Regions from separate parts of the Homo sapiens genome. Here region 1 is linked to region 2. The links come from fine-mapping of genetic effects on gene expression. A gene starts in region 2. The other region holds a variant in brackets. All regions are shown on one strand. Distances are between the middles of the regions.

What was found.
Region 1: its variant is fine-mapped to the expression of CHML in whole blood (INTERVAL, PIP above 0.99).

Annotation. Positions count from the first base shown.
Region 1 is chr1:241,533,528-241,541,867 of GRCh38, forward strand. The region is part of intron 1 of KMO (kynurenine 3-monooxygenase); the gene reads left to right. Among named protein-coding and RNA genes, the nearest start is that of KMO, 5.3 kb to the left of the region's middle. The variant C/T (reference allele first, on the strand shown) is at 3,676.
Region 2 is chr1:241,636,060-241,644,399 of GRCh38, forward strand. It overlaps CHML (CHM like Rab escort protein), which reads right to left and starts at 4,310. Exons shown (of 2, transcript NM_001381853.1): 1 at 3,823-4,310; 2 at 1-14. OPN3 (opsin 3) reads right to left here and starts at 4,310. Exons shown (of 4, transcript NM_014322.3): 1 at 3,823-4,310. The coding sequence starts at 4,195. RefSeq lists enhancers at 3,437-4,007, 4,008-4,577 and silencers at 3,680-3,729, 4,060-4,639.

The DNA of each region.
Region 1 (8,340 bases), 100 kb before region 2:
TGATGTGTTGGTCACTGGTTGGGACATGTGTCGTCACTGCTTCATACTAGGCTTGTGTCCAATCTGTCCTATCAAAATGTTGCACAAAATGAGAATTCATGTGTTCAACAAAATCTGATTACTATGTACCAATATTGTTTTAGGTAGTAGGGATGCGAGGGTGAGAATTCCAGAGAAGAAAAAGACAAGGAAGAAGAAAACAAATAAGACAATTTCAGTTAAAGAGAAGCACTATGAAAGAAACGAAAACAGGGTAGTGCTGTAGAGAGTATCTTTGGGAGTACCTGTTTAGAATGTGGTCAGGGACAGCTGCTCTGCTGAAGGGACATGTGACCAGAGACCTGAATGATCAGATAGAACTAACTACGTGAAGATCTTGAGAAAGAGCATTTCAGGCAGAGGGAACAGCAGGAAGAGAAACCCTCAGGCAATAATGAGCTGCCCAAGTTCAAGGAGCAGAAAGAAAGGCAGGAACTGCCTGAGGCCAGAGAAGAGTAGCTGATGAGGCCAGAAAAGCTGACAGACCAGATCTTGTAGGATCTTAGAGGTCCAGGCAAGAAGATCAGATTTTGTTCAAATTACAATGGGAAACTATTGGAGGATTTTAGGCAGGAAATTAAGTTGTGATTTTAAAAGGTCCCTTGGACCATTATGTGGAGAATGACTAGGAACATTTTAAGATGACAAGATAGACCAGTTAGGAGGCTGTTACGTTAGCTCAAGACTTGGACTAAGGTGGCAGCAGTGATGTCTCATTTTAAAAATTGTCTCTTAGAAATCCAAGGGAGAGATAACAAATATGTGATTGTATATATGGTTTTGGGGGGCATAAAAATGTGGGTGTCATCCATGGATTTCTCCCTGAATAACATGAGATTGTCATCATGTAACCACGTCATACATATGCTGGAAAATAGGAGACAAAAATTACTACTTGCGTATTAGGGAGCAACTAAAATTCCTCTGCAAAAGAATTCTATCCATCCTATTGTTCAAGTCCATGCTTACGCATCATGTTTGATTCCTATTGTCATTTTGTGCAAACGCTTATTCTTCTTTCACTCCATCAGTAAGCCTTGAGGCTCTATATCCAAAATACATTTAAATTCTAGCCATTACAACCATCCTGGCCCAAGCCATTATCATCCGCCATCCTTATTCCTGCAACAAGCTCCAAATTAGTCTCCCAGCTTTAACTCCTTTTCCCTTATAGTCCATACTACACACCACAGCCAGAAACACCCTTCTAAAACATGAGTCTGATCATTATCATCCCCTGCTTAAAATCTTCCAATGATCTCCCATTACAAATAAAATAAAACCCAAACTCTTTACCAAAGGTCTTGTCTGAACTAAGCCTATCTGCCTTTCTGGCTTCACCCCTTTCCCTTTTTATTTGTTAATCTTATCTACCAGTATCGGAAATTACACACTTTGGGTTTTTTTTTTTAACCTGTTTCTTAGATATCTACTCCAACTAGGATATAAACTCTTATTAACCAATGTATTCCAGAGGCTGTAATTATGCCTAACATTATGTATTGGGTGGATGAATAAATGAGAGGAATGAGAAAACTTAATGATATAAAGGTGAAAAAATAATAACAGATGCATGTTTGAATATTGAGAAAATTATTTTTAAAAGTATTGACTAAATAGAGCAATTCAAGAAGGTTAATGTCTTTACATAGAGGACAAGATTACATTTTTGCCCATCTTCTTCTGTTTTTTTTTCCACCCTCCCTTCCTACCTCCTCCTTTCCATAAACCATATCCCAGTACCTTATACTGTCTAACACATTAAAGGCTCTCCCCTGGCCCCTAGAAAAAAAAATGAGAGTTGAGAACCTTTACTTAGACATCCAAAAAATATAGTGAACTTCCCTCAATTCTTATCAGTGGTAGCTTACCATGTCTAGTAAACTTGCCTAATGAAAAGTCACCCTGAGAAGTTATTCTTGCTCTGATGTAGTGATCATCTGATATTGGGTTAAACCAGTTGATTTCCTTTCTTTGAAGACATGTTCAGTCAAAGAGATCAACAAACCAGTAAAAAAACTCCTAATGAGAAACAAAAGGTAAAAGAAACTAAACCATAATCATAAACCAGGTAAAGTTTAAATATTGAAAAACAAGTGGGAAAAGATGTTAAAATAGCATTTCAAGAACATTGACCTAAATATTTAGAAAGACCCCTGTATTGACTGATATTTTCCTCCTTGTGTGAATTACAACTCCCCCATCCCTTCTCCAGCCAATGGGATTACCTCCTGCTAGTTCCAGAAGGTAACTGCAGGACAATCAACCTGTGAAGGCTTCTCCTCTCTTTAAATGCCCACAGGGCTTTGTTTGTCATTATCAAATGCTGCCTTCTATTAAAATTTTGTTATGCATAGTTTATTCCCCATAGAAGCTTTTTACTTCGTAGATCTAAAGATTATTTTATCTTTGGCTCCTGCTACCTTTATAAAGGTTTCCCAGTGCCTTATAATGTGAGCCACACTAAAATATTTTCTGTGCATGAGTTTGATTTCAGAACAAAGTGGAGAATCACTCCTTTAGAAGTTATGGGAAATTTTTAAAGAGTTTTTTTTTTAACACAATTATGTCATGAGGAATGTAGTCCTTTCAATGAGTAACTTAAAAAAGGATTTGGAAAATAATCTCAATTTTGCATGCTGGAAGGAGTTCTACAGTGTAGCTTTTCAATTCTAGCACATCATTTCAAAAAAAACCTGCATTACAAAAAAACTGCCATACAAACTGCCTTACTTCATGTTAGAGTGATATGTTTTCTTTTCTTTATGAAGTGAGAGAGAAGTAGACAAGCCAGAGAAGTAAACAAAGGCCATCTAAGCTAAACAAGTGTCCTTAATCCACATCTGAATTCAGTCCTTAAGACTCAGAAAATACTGCTTTTGATAACTGTTTTCAGTGTTTACAGGTATGACGAAAGTGATCAGAGCAAAAAGGCACCATTTCAGTGACAGCTAAAGCTACTCAAGACACCATTTTTTGACTGAAGCCAAGAGCCTTGGTAAGAGGGCTATTAAGCATTCCAGTCTCAGCTGACTCCTGCTGTTGCAATGTATGTCCACTATTCTAGCATGTATTTTGGAGATGTATTTTAGGATATCATTCAAATATTTCTTCTGTTCCTTTCTGCAAAAAAGAAACCCCACTGTAGAGAGCTTTGTGATCTACTCTCCCTATGTTTGACCCAGGAAAGTTCTCCATTTAGTAGTATTTAGAGGGTGAGGAGATTTGTACGTATTTTGACTTATTGTTGATAATTGTGCCCTGCCCCCTGGAATTCAAGTCAAGTCAGTGGCCTCTGCTGATGAAATTGCTTTTGAGGCAACTTGACCTTGACTCTATGAGAGTTTATGTCTCACAGCTATAGATGTTAAATCCTGTCATGGATTTATAGGCTCAAAATGGTCTTGATGCCAAACTGTCCCCAAATGGTGTTTCTGTTCTGTTCTTCTTAGGATTTTTCCACCTCACCACTTACTCTTCACTCAGCTTCATGGGATGGAAAAAACATTATTCATTGAGGGGACTGGGAATAGCAGAGTTTGCAACCAGCTGGACACTCAGGAAATCTTACCCTATGGGTCTCAGTTTCTTCCTCTTGGACTAAAACTAGATTGCTAGTCTTTTAACACTAAAATT[C/T]TACTGCTTCTTTTTCACACTTTCTCGCTCACAGATCTCTAGCTTTGTTCTCAACCTACTCCTTTCTAAAAAAAGAAATCAAATGTCACCCAGAATTTTCACTTTCCCTGAAGTAAACGTCCTCAGTGCATATGAACCATCAAATGGCTTATAATCCTGGGTTGAGGTCTACACAGAATTTGATTCAAGTGCATACTTTATATTTTTTGCAAATATTAATGAGCTATACCATGAAAAAGACATAATTACTGTTAACCTTTATTGTTATTATTTTATCAATGTGAAAATAAACTAAGCTCTATTTGCTCTACTCTTGTTTTGATACCAAACTAGGCTTGTTCTGCCCAGCATGCAGTAAGTCAGTTACTGAGATAACAAGTGTATTAATCCGTTTTCATGTTGCTGATAAAGACCTACCTGAGACTGGGCAATTTATAAAGAAAAAGAGGTTTAATGGACTCAGTTCCACGTGACTGGGGAGGTCTCATGATGATGGTGAAAGGCAAAAGGCATGTCTTACATGGTGGCAGGCAAGAGACGGCATGCAGGGGAACTCTCCTTTATAAAATCATCAGATTTCATGAGACTCATTCACTATCACGAGAACAGCATGGGAAAGACCCAATCCCATGATTCAATTACCTACCGCTGGGTCCCTCCCACAACACATGAGGATTATGGAAGCTACAATTCAAGATGAGATTTGGGTGGGGACACAACCAAACCATATCAACAAGTTTTGCAGTAAAGAGAAGATTTTATTCACAGGACAGCCCAGCAAGGAGATGGAAGAACAGCTTTCAAATCCACCTCTCCAAAGATAGGGCTTAGAGATATTTATGGGGTAAAGAAGCAGGGTGGTCTAAGGTGTGGGGAAGGTGATTAGCAGTGGGGAAAAATGAATAGGTGGTCTGAGCATGCATAATCAAGGTTCATGACTCTTCATAGGACACATGTTCAGAAAATGGTGGCATTAGCATGCTGTGAAGGTGAGGTTTTTGGCCTTCTGGTATCAGAAAGTCACTTCTTGGGCATTTGTGCAGGCCCAGTTGAAGGGCCTGCAACTCTCTTCTTTCCTTCTTCTATCTGCTTTCTCATTCTCCTATTATCCTTACTCCATAGTAATAAGGCCCAGGAGTCAATGGGCAAGGTAGAAAGAGGGTTGGTGGTCTCTTTCAAGTAGTTTAACTTGGGTAAGAACACCTAGTTCCTGAAAACAAAAACAAAAACAAAAACTTTAAGCAACTATTACCATAGTGACATACATGCCAGAGACGTTGTCTATAAGGAAGCTAGTGACAGATTAGATGTATATTGTTTGGCTACATGACTTTTAGCTATATGGGCTTTGAGATCAACTAGAAGTAAGCAATAAAAAGCAAGCAAGGCAGGCTGTTTGGTGGGCCTCACCATGTTAGACCTGGGTTTCAGTTTTCTATTTCATAGGCTCTGAGCCTTCTTAAATATGAAAAACTCTCATTAGTGGCCCATATCTAGCACCTTCTAAAAACAGAGGTGGAATGGATTTCTTTGTGGCTGTGCCTCATAAATCCCACTCTCACCTCAGGGAATTCATCCCTCAGAGATTCCTTCATTTGCTATCTGGTGGGAAGTATCTGGAATGGAACCAACAACTTTAGACAGCTCCAGACTTTGTTAAGTGCCTACAAAGAGTGTGTCTTTCATTCCTTCTCATTTGGCGCATCCTCCTCCCAAATACTCTCAGATTATTTCCCTTCTGTCCATATTCACTCATGCATTCGTCTAGTCCTCTATCTGTCTACTCAAAGAAAAAGAGCACCCTCATACACTGTTGATGGTAATCTAAGCCGGTATTTTTTTCCTGGAAAACAACTTGAAAATATACACATCTGTAGTCTTAAAAATAGTGGGGATTTGGCTGGGCACGGTGGCTCAGGCCTGTAATCCTAGCACTTTGGGAGTCCGAGGTGGGTGGATTGCCTGAGCTCAAGAGTTCGAGACCAGTCTGGGTAACACAGTGAAACCCCATCTCTACTGAAACACAAAAAAATTAGCCAGGCATGGCAGTGTGTGCCTGTAGTCCCAGTTATTCGGGAGGCTGAGGCAGGAGAATTGCTTGAACCTGGGAGGCAAAGGTTTCAGTGAGCTGAGATCGTGCCACTGCATTCCAGTCTGGGCAACGGAGTGAGACTCCGTCTCAAAAAAATTCCAGAAAGCAGCAATAGCTACTTCACCCTTGAAGTTGGCCTAAGCATGGCATTGCATTCAGAGTAACAACTGTCCTTCAGCCAATGAGAAATTAAAAGCAAATAGAATCTAATGTAGGCTCTCAAAAACATCAAATCTGGAGTGTATTCAAAACTCCCAACAAAACCTTCTGAAATGATATTGCCCCAGTCAATCTGAATCTCTTTCGTGTGCTTTGCAGTTATTCCAAAAGCAAGACAAAGGAAGATTGAGCAGGCTCCTCTTACGCTCTAGACCATCAATATTCTCTCCGCAGCTCACTTCAGACTCTCTTCTTTCCCTCTTTGTTTTCTCATTCCCCTGTTATCCTTACTCCATTCCCCCACTAGTAATAAGGCCCAGGAGCCAACGGGGCAGGTAGAAGGAGGGTGTGGAGCTCGGAATTGGCCAGTGTTTCAATCCCTTTTATTCAAAATTGCCCTTTGGTGGGCCATTTCATTAGTGAGATTTTATCAAAAGAAACGTGTATGCGTCATACAATTGTCTATAATGCTAAAGAATTAAAATAACTTGAATATCCAAATATAAGCACACTGCCTACAATCAAATGTAATGCAAGTATTAAATGCTTTTACTTCAGACATCTTTTGACGTGGAAATGTATTTAGAGTACACTTTTCATTTTTTGAAAGAAATTATGAAAGAAAATATACAACCTGTTACCATTTTGAAAAGAAATATCATGTATTTTATATACATAGAAAATGTTAATATTGGTTGCCATTGGTGGTAAAATTGTGAGGAATTATTTTTTTCTTCACATTTACCTGTATTTTCTAATTCATTAGAATTTGTGGTTTATATCAGAGATAAAAAGACAAAATACAAGCCATGCAAATATTATTCCTCTCTGGGAATTTACTGCCTGGTGGAAGTCAGACAAGACTATAAATAAATAATTCAATGTACTTGAGACATTAAAACACATCTATATACATATATATATATAATTACAGAAGAAAAGGCAAACAAGTCTTTTGGAGGAGTAGAGGTATCAGGAAAAACTACACTGAGGATATGAGTCTTAAAGGAAAGGTAGGCATTTTCCAAAAACTGAATATAAGGCAGGGAAGGATAGTATTCAAAGGCATGGAAGAATAAAAGTGCATGGCATATTCAGAAAACATATAGTAAATTTAGTATGCCTATTACAGATGGTGCAAGAGAATAGTGCATGAGATAGTGCATGAGAATAGTGCATAATGAACTGGAGAAAGAGGTTGGGATCACATGTAAGAATCCATTATGTCATATTGAAAATTTGGAATTTTTTCCTGAAAAGATAAGGAGCTAATAAACAACTGTAAGACAAAAATAATCATTCAACATCTTATTTAGAAGATAATTAGTGATTGGGCATGATGGTTCATGCCTATAATCTCAGCTGTTTGGGGGGCCGAGGCAGAAGGATCACATGAACCCAGGGGTTTGAGACCAGCCTTGGCAACATAGCAAGATCCTGTCTCTACAAAAATTAAAAAAATTAGCCAGGCATAGCAGCACACCTGTAATCACAGCTACTTGGGAGGCCAAGGCAGGAGATCACTTGAACCCAGGAGTTCAAGGTTGCAGTGAACTATGATCTCAGCCTTGCATGCCTGCCTGGGTGACAGAACAAGACCCTGTCTAAAAAGAAAATAAAAAGAAGATGACTAGTTCTAGTGCAGAGTACAGATTGAATGCATACAGACTGGGGAAAGAGGGTTATTAGAAAACGGTTGCAGTAGCCTGGTAAAAGCTAATGAGGGCCCCATGTAAGGACAGAGCTGTGGGTAGCAGAAGATCTGCTGTGAGAGAGACTGAAGAGGAACAATCAATAGGACGTATTGCCTAGCTTCATGTATACTGGTAGGTAGAGAGGGGTGTTAAATATTCACCGAGCTACCCTGGTTGGGTGAATTAGTGAATGCAATTGCTATTCTCTAAGATATGAAATATATAAGGAGGAAGAAAGTTTATGGAATACAGAATACAGAAGAAGGAGAATGAGAGGGCTGAGGAATGGGAATAAGTCAACTTTTAGCTATGTTGAGAGGGAGATGCCTATAGACAGGTTCAGTAGTCACAGATGGAGTTCAGGACGAAGATCAAGACTAGAGTAAAAGTCATAAATTTTCTTAAGAGCACTCAGGAATGTGCATCATTCACCTTCTCATAAGAGGGAAAATCAAGACCACTGCTTGGCTTTAGAGATCAATTCCAGATGACACAGATTAGAGAACTCAGGGTAAGGATTAAATAATAAAACAATATTTGGCATAACATATGCAATTCTGGAAGATGTAATATTTACTAACAAAGTATGAAGACACTGATGTGCTTATTGCATTGTAAGTAGAGTTAACAGTCTGATTCTTCTCATTGCATTGATATACCCAAAGATCAAAATCTTGAGACGTCAAACTATAGTTTCATGACCAAATATGGATTTCAACA
Region 2 (8,340 bases):
ACTGGAACTCTTCTCTGAAAGAAGAAAATTCAAGAAAGAATACATTGTAAACAATATAAGAGAAAAATAATTTCATGCAACAATGACAATCCATTGGAGTGTGACATCTTATTTGGACATAAACCTCTACTAAAGCATGTCTTAAATGCTTTCTCACATATTTTCTAATTTCTTGAGAATGGACAATAGAGATATAACAGCCCTCCCAAGAATCAGGCAACATAGTAATAGAGAATGAACATAATGTTCCACAAAAATAAAGAAGAAATAACATAATACAATTCTCTAACTTTAGCTTTTAAGAAAACTATCATGTGAATAAATCTATACACAGCTGTGAGCTTAGACTAAAAGGAACGCATGGCTCCACTGTTTATAGAAACAGATTATAAACTATGTGCATACTGCCATGATTCAAAATATTTCTGTGGCCATTACAGTCTATGTGTGATTCCAGAACAGCTGAATATAAGACCTTTCCATGCCACAACCACCCTTAGGATCTCATGGTAGCAACATGAGACTATTTCTACTCAATTACTAGTCAGATTATTACAAAAGGATTAATTCAGTAAAACAACTGGCCATTTAAAAATATTTAGGCTCATAATAGCCCTGAGGAGGAAAATGTATTAAAAATATTATATGAATGTACACATGCATATAAGTAATAAAGGAAAAAAGTGTGTAAGTGTAAGTAAAAAAGGAAAACTTCTGATTTCATATTAAAATATCTTAACATAAATAATACCTACTTCTAACATTTGAATACAGTGATGTTTGCATTTCGCCACTGTCTCTGCAACCCTGAATCTCTGCATCCCAAGCAAAAGGTCTATCTAAACATCCTCTGCCAAGACTAACACTGTTTGTTCTTATTTTTGAAGGGGAAGTTTAAAAAAAAAAAAATAATAAGGTTCTCCTGTTAACTTTGAGCATAATGCTGGTTACATTCCATGTGCGGAAGACATCTGTGTGATGCCCTGTGTGGCCAGAGGTAGAAAGGCCAAGGTGCTGAAGAGCATACTCACCTGAAAGTCTTTAGGCTAAAGCAACAATACTGCTAAACTTTCTAATATTCATCATTGCACAGTTTTGAGCTCTGGTTTTCACTACTGTTAAACCTACTGAAATATAAATCAGTACAAGCTGTACCTGTCTAGCCCAAGATGACTAATAATCCTGGATACTGGAAAAACAAGCCATTCAATTGGAACTTAGATTAAATTGCATAGGGCACACACCTTTAGTTTAACTAAAATGGCAATCCTAACAGTCCTGTCTAGTCAAAGCCTCTGTCTCAAAAATATCAAGGATTCCACTCATTTTTGGCATTCCCTAAGAAGCCAGGAACTAAGTACAGAATGCAGCAGTTGCCTGGCCCACTCAAGTATAAATATAAGTATGTCTGAATTACTTATTCTGCTTCTTCCAGCAGGGTGTGAAGATGGAGACTGAATCTATGATGGTATCTGAAGAGGTGTAACCATAGTACATGCTGCTTCTTGGCTTAGAAAGACAGGGCTCAGGGTAGGAGTAGGAGCAGAAGACACAATCAATAAGCGCTAAGATCAGGCACGTTCTAACCTACAGATATCAAAGGGGTCATCAAAATGCAAAGCAAGTAGGATGGCCTTACAGAGCATTAAGCTGAATTACCCAATAATAGAGATGAGAGAACTGATAGCTGGAGAGATTAAGTGACTTGAGAAAGCCCGCACAATGCATGAGTCGCAGGATAAGGAACAGGATCCACTCTTGTGCCATCAGACCAATGGTCTTTCCAACAGATAGGGCAAGCCTCTCCAAAAGCCTCTGCATCAAGAAGCTACTTCCCTCATTTTTAACTTCCTCCCCTTCAATACTCCACTGTTAGGTAGTTCTTGCTCAGGGATAACTCAGGAAGTGCCCTCCTTTTCTTCATCCTTAACCTGGATCTAGAAGCACAAACTCCGGAATTTACTCCAGGCAAAGAAATCATCTTCGCTAAAAACTTTTTAAACTCTATAGTAACTTCACTACTAACTTGCCCCCCAGGGCTTAAGTCTCGGAATCTCTTATCTCAGGGTTTCCACCTCTACATTAAAAACAGGGAGAAAGTCATGGTTGAAAGCACTAAATGCCCTGAAAAATAGGGCAGCCCTCAGGCAAAAATCTAAGTGAACTTAGAAAATCACTGGGCTGGGACCCTAGGAGGGATGGTGAAGAAGAAAAACAGGAAGGGAGAAGTGACCAGGAGACACAGGAGGGTGGGATCAGCAGAGGAAAGAGGTGAGGAAGAGGGTGGATGACAGCTAGCACTTATAAAGAACTCAGTACACCCTTGTGTTCAAACTCCCGGGCACGAAAACAGAATTTTCCAGCACAGAAAAGGCACTTCAAGGAAAAAAGAACTTTGATGTCTGTGAACAAACACCTGTTGACTACCCTGGAGAACACTACTGATGATACTTTAGGCTTGGGCTTGAATAACCTTCTTAGCATTGCCGAAGAAACTGCCTGATAGGTATTTTACAATTAATATAAGGAGTGTAATCCCATAGTCGTCCATACCACAGCCTACATACACTTGCAGTCCCCTCCCTAAATTTCAAATGTTTGTTCAAATGAAATTATCAGATTAAAGCTTATGAGGGGCGGGGAGGAAAATATTATAACCTCTGAAGCAATCAAATAAAATCTATTTTCTTATTTCCTTCAAAACGCCAAAAAATGAATCATTACAAATATAATATTTGGGTTTGTCATAGCATAGAGGTTACTGAATAAGAAAATATTTTTGATAATTCTACAAAGATTTTTGTTCTCCCAAACCTACCAAGATTAAAGCAATAAAGTATCAATGGATTTCAGGATTTAAAAAAGGAACTTTAAGCCTTGAGAAATACACATTTCTATTTCAAATCTCCCTACAAATGAAATTCCTGAGGCACACAAAAAAATAATTTCCTTTCTACGCTTCCTTCAATGATTTGCTGAGTTGTTGATCATCCTTCAAAACATCATGTCTCAGTGAAACTTAAATCTTCCATAATAAGAGTACTGTCGAAATACATCTTCAACAATGAAGTTCTACTTTAATGAAATCTACCGATTGCAGAGCTAATTACAGTATTTGTTCACCTGAGATGGTATTGGCTGAGCCATTTGTAATCTCACCCAAGATTCTGGTGTGCTGGAACCCATCTATAAGACGGAAAATAGTAAAAACAGCTTACAGGGCACATGCCAATTTGCATTCTGAGGACCTGAATGAAACTGTCTCATTCCCTAGAAAGCATTCAAAGGTTTACAAGTACTAATGAGAATTTTTTTTTACACATTGTTATTTTGGTTTTCTACTCTCATTTTAGGAAACAAATAGTAGTACATGAATCTAATCTCATCACTCCCTCCAACTTTCACGAGTTAATCACTTTTTTTCTTGAATCTCTTGACTCTACAGGCCCTCGTCTCTTTCCTCAAAGTGTAAAAAGCCGTGGTTTCGTGCCTTGTTGAGTGATCTTAGGAGGTAAAAACAAATAAGAAAGGAGGCGGGCCGGGGTTTGGGGTCAACGTGGGGGGCAGATGAGAGACCACAGGAATGGAGTCCTGGACAGCGTGGGGCGGGAGGGGACGGAGGAAGAGGAAGGCACCCGCCATGCGGCTGGGGTCGGGCAGCGTTGAGGAGGCGAGCGGGGAGCGGGGCGGTGTAGGGCGGGGGGCGCGGGGCCGAGCGGGAAGCGGTGCGGGGCGGGCTGGGGGGCGGACGCACGGAGCGGGCAGCGGGGTGGGGAGTGGAAGTTTGCAGAGGGGAGGCTGCCTTCTCCCAGTCCAACTCACCGAAGAGGCTGCCGCTAAACCCGTCCCACACGCAGCCCACGGTGTCCCACACCCAGCCGTTCCTCAGGCAGGACACGAAGGTAAAGGTGACCCCGAAGAGGGACACCAGCAGGTCGCTGAGGCTGATGTTGACCAGGAGGAGGTGAGTGGGAGTGCGGAGCCGCTGGAACTTGTAGTAGAGGACGAGCACCAGCAGGTTGTTGCCGACGCCCAGCAGCCCAATGGAGCCCAGCAGCAGCGCCAGGCGCTCGTAGGTGCCGGGGCTGAAGAGGGGCGCGGGGCTCAGTGTCCCCGCCGGCGCCGGCCCCTCAGCGCCCGCGGCCCCGCCGCCGTCCCAGTAGCCGTGGCCGCCGCTGCGGTTCCCCGAGTACATGGCCCGGCGCCGGCGCGCCTGGCGGGCGGAGGCGCTCAGCTTGCGGCGGGGCTCGCGGCGCGCTCCGCACTGGGTGGGGTTGGGGCTCCGCCGCCTGCTCTAGCCATTGTGCACTGAGGGGCCCGCGCTACCGCGCGCCGGGCCCGCCCTCTTCCCGCCCCTTCCGCCCGGCGCACCCCCCGTGGCCCCGCCCCTCCCCGCGGCCTGTCCTCGTCGCTCCGCTGCTCCCGGCGCGTCCTCTTAGCCCCGCCCCCCCGCGGGCGCGTCCTCGCGGCTAGCTCGCCCCGCCCCCACTGGCTGGGCACCTTCCGCTGGTCGGCGTGGACGCGCGTCGCGGGATAGCCTGGGGGCCAGGGCCGCAGGGTAGCCTCGATGGCTCTTCACACCCCCACCTCCCTGCACCCACCTTGAAAGCTTCGTGTCCACTCACCCATTCATGCACTCACTTATACATTCATTTATTCCTAAGTATTTATGAGCGCCTGCGCCCACCACGTGCTGGCAAGAATTGGGTTTCTCCCCTTCCTGGGAAGCTGTAATAACCCACAACCAGCCTACGAAGCCCATCCCGCGTCATACACTCAATGTAAACAAAAGCAAAGAAAACATTGAAGAGCTCGGGGTAGTCTTACCGGAAAACTGAGAAGAAAAACAACAAATTGATAGACAGGTGCCTGCCTAACTACCTGACTGCTAGAGGACACATGTCCCAGGGCTGATACAAGAGCCTGCCACCCTTGGAGAGTCTGGGATGAAAACTCTCTGAAAATGGCATTCCAATGGAACTGACTTTAAGCCCTGGGCTGGACCCCAAGGCCTTCCAATACCGTCCTTCCTGTGCTTGAAAGCGTGGGTAGATCTTTCCGGTCACTGAGGCCTGCTAAAGTCCTTCACAGGCAGTGAAAGATTCAACCTAAATCTAGCAGGTATAGGAGGCAGGTGCTATATTTAGAACAGCACACATTTCCCATTGGGCCTCTTCTCCTGTAGTGATGAGAATATAGTACAAGTCAAATATAGGTTGTGAACGTCATCACACTCTGCAAGAGCTGCTTCTGCCTTTGTGGTTGCACAATCCCTAAGGAGGCCCTACAAGAAGATCACAGTCCCCAGCCACACCTGCAGCCTGTCCTGGACACTGGTGACGAACACAGGGTTTGTGCAAGCTAAAGAAACTGCTCTCCATACGGGCGTGCCTCACCTCTGTTTGAAAGATCAGTAGGGAATGACTAGCTTGGATCAATCCACATTCTGAATTCCCTGGAGAGAGGATCTAATAGGCTGGCAGCAGCTCTCCACCCTGGTGCACTGAGCAATAGCTAAGGGGCAGTGTGCTCTGCCTTTGACACCTTGATTTTCCTTCAAGGCTTCTGCTCTGGACTCGCCATCTGTGAGACTTCCTACCCACCCACCCCTTAAAAAACACACACACACTTTTAATTGTTAATTTTAGATTTGTACAACCACTGAACAAAACATAACTATTTAACAAGTTCTATATGTTTAATGTCGAAAGTGTTTTCTGTGTCTAGTCTACAGTAAGTTCTCAATAAATAGTAATTTGAATGAATGAATAAAGAACTCGCTATATTTTTTCCTATTCATTCTTCATTGCTGAGTCATTGCCCTTATAAAGCTCACATTCCAGTCGTGTTGGGAGAACAAACAAAAATTAGATAAATACGTAGGGTGTCAGCCACTGACAAATGCCATGAAGAAATAGGGGTCAGGCGTGGTGGCTCATTCCTGTAACCCCAGCACTTTGGGAGGCCGAGGCAGTAGGATTTCTTAAGCCCAGGAGTTCAAGACCAGCCTGGGCAACAAAGTGAGAACTGCCCCCTAACTCTTCAAAAAATAGAAAATTAGCCAGGCAAGATGGTACATGTCTGTGGTCCCAGCTACTCAGGAGGTTGAGCCAGGAGCTATGGGAGATGGGGCAAGGAGTTTGTAAGAGTTAAAGAAAGAGGAAAGAAACACTAATAGCAGCTCAACAGTCAGACAGTGTTATTTGGAAGAATAAACCTAAGAGGGGCTTCTGGCCGATTTCGGTCAGGAGCACTCTCTTACAGACTAAGAGTATTTAAGGATTTTAGAGTGAGAGAGCTTATCACAGGCGTGGAATGTTTCTGTTTGGAGAAGAAGTTTATTGCCAAGTTGGAATGTCTCTGTCGGAGGGGAGGTTATCTCGGGGCTCGCATGTCTCTGGTCAGGGAGGGGTTTATCTTAGGGTTGGAATGTTTCTGGTCGGAGATGTCATTTGTGGTGTATGGTCATGCTGACCTTAGCCATTAGGCTGATGCTGTTTGGATTTAGGTGGTTTTTGATCAAGGGGAACTTTAAAATGGCAGTGCTTGTCCATGATGGTGATGCACCTGCTCTGTCAAGGTTGTTATTTAGACAAGGTGGTTATGGGCAGGAGTACTGTATTGGTATGTTGGAGGAACAATAAGGAAGCAAGAATGAGAATCGGGAAATGCAGCCAGTCAGGTGGGTGTGCAGTGAATGGCCAGAATATGCAGGACCTTGGCCATTTCAATAAAAGGACTTTGGCTTTTACTCAATCAGAGTAAAGTCCAGGGCAATGCCTACTAGCAGTGAATGCAAAGGAGGAGTAAGAGGCCTTTGACAAATGCTTAAGCATTTTTGACACAGTAATTTTACAATACTATGAACCATTAAGGACATTTATTGAGCTTGACAGAAACAGGCAATGATAAGGATATATGTTTCTTTTTTAATTTTAGAATTATGTAATGACAGGATAATGGCAGAACACTACAATCTTTTATTAAAAAAAAAAACAAAAAACAAACAAATGAAAAACACCAGCATGATATAGTTTGGATGTTTGTCCCCACCCAAATCTCATGTTGAAATATAATCCCCAATATTAGAGGTGGGTCCTAGTGGTAGGTGTTTTGGTCATAGGGGGCGGATCCCTCATGAATGGCCTGGGCCATCCCCTTTGTGATAAGTGAGCTCTGGTCATCTAAAAGTGTGTGGCAACTCCGCCATCCCACTCTCTCTCTCTCTCTCTCCCTATCTGGTTGTCGCCATGTGAGATGCCTGCTCTCACTTTGCCTTCCACCATGAGTAAAAGCTCCCTGAGGCCTCCCCAGAAGCTGAGTAGATGCCAACACCATGCTTCCTGTACAGCCTGCAGAACTGTGAGCCAATTAAATCGCTTTTCTTTATAAATTACCCAGTCTCAGGTATTTACAGCAGTGCAAGAACAGCCTAATACACAGCATAAGGACAAACATGTAGACCAATGGAATAGAATAGAGAGCCAAGATATAAACTCTTACATATATGGTCCATTGATTTTTGACAAGGATGCCAAGGCCATTCAATGGGGAAAGGAGGAAAGGACAGTCTTTTCAACAAATGATGCTGGGAAAACTGCATATCCATGTGCAAATGAATGAAGTTGGAGCCTTACATTATATCATATATAAAAATTAACTCAAAATTGATTGGAGACCTATATGTAAAAGCTAAAACTATAAAACTTTTAGAAGAAAACTTCTTGGGTATGACACCAAAAGCACAGGCAACAGGAGAAAAATAGCTAAATTGGACTTTATCAAAATTAAAAACTGTTATGCATCAAAGGGCACTATCAAAAGAGTGAAAAGACAGCACAGCAAATGGGAGAAATACTTGCAAGTCATATATCTGATAAGGCATCAATATTATAAAGACCCCCTACAACTCAACAACAAAAAACTCCACACAACCCAATTCAGAAATAGGCAAAGGATCTGAGTAGACATTACTCCAAAAATATACTAATGGCCTAAAAGCACATGGAAGGAAACTTACTGTGATTAGTCATTAGGGAAATGCAAATCAAAGCCACAATGACATACCACTTCACACCTACTAGAAGGGCTATCATCAAAAAACAAAACAAAACACAAAAACAAGTGTTGGTTTTTGTGTGGAGATGTGTAGAAATTAGAACCCTGTCGTACTGCTGATGGGAATGTGAAATGGTGTGGCTCCTGTGGAAGACAATTTGGTAGTTCCACAAAAAGTTAAACATAGAATTATTGTGAGCTCATTCCTGTAATCCCAGTGCTTTGGGAAGCTTAAGCAGGATGATCACTTGAGGCCAAGAGTACAATGACCAGCCTGGGCAA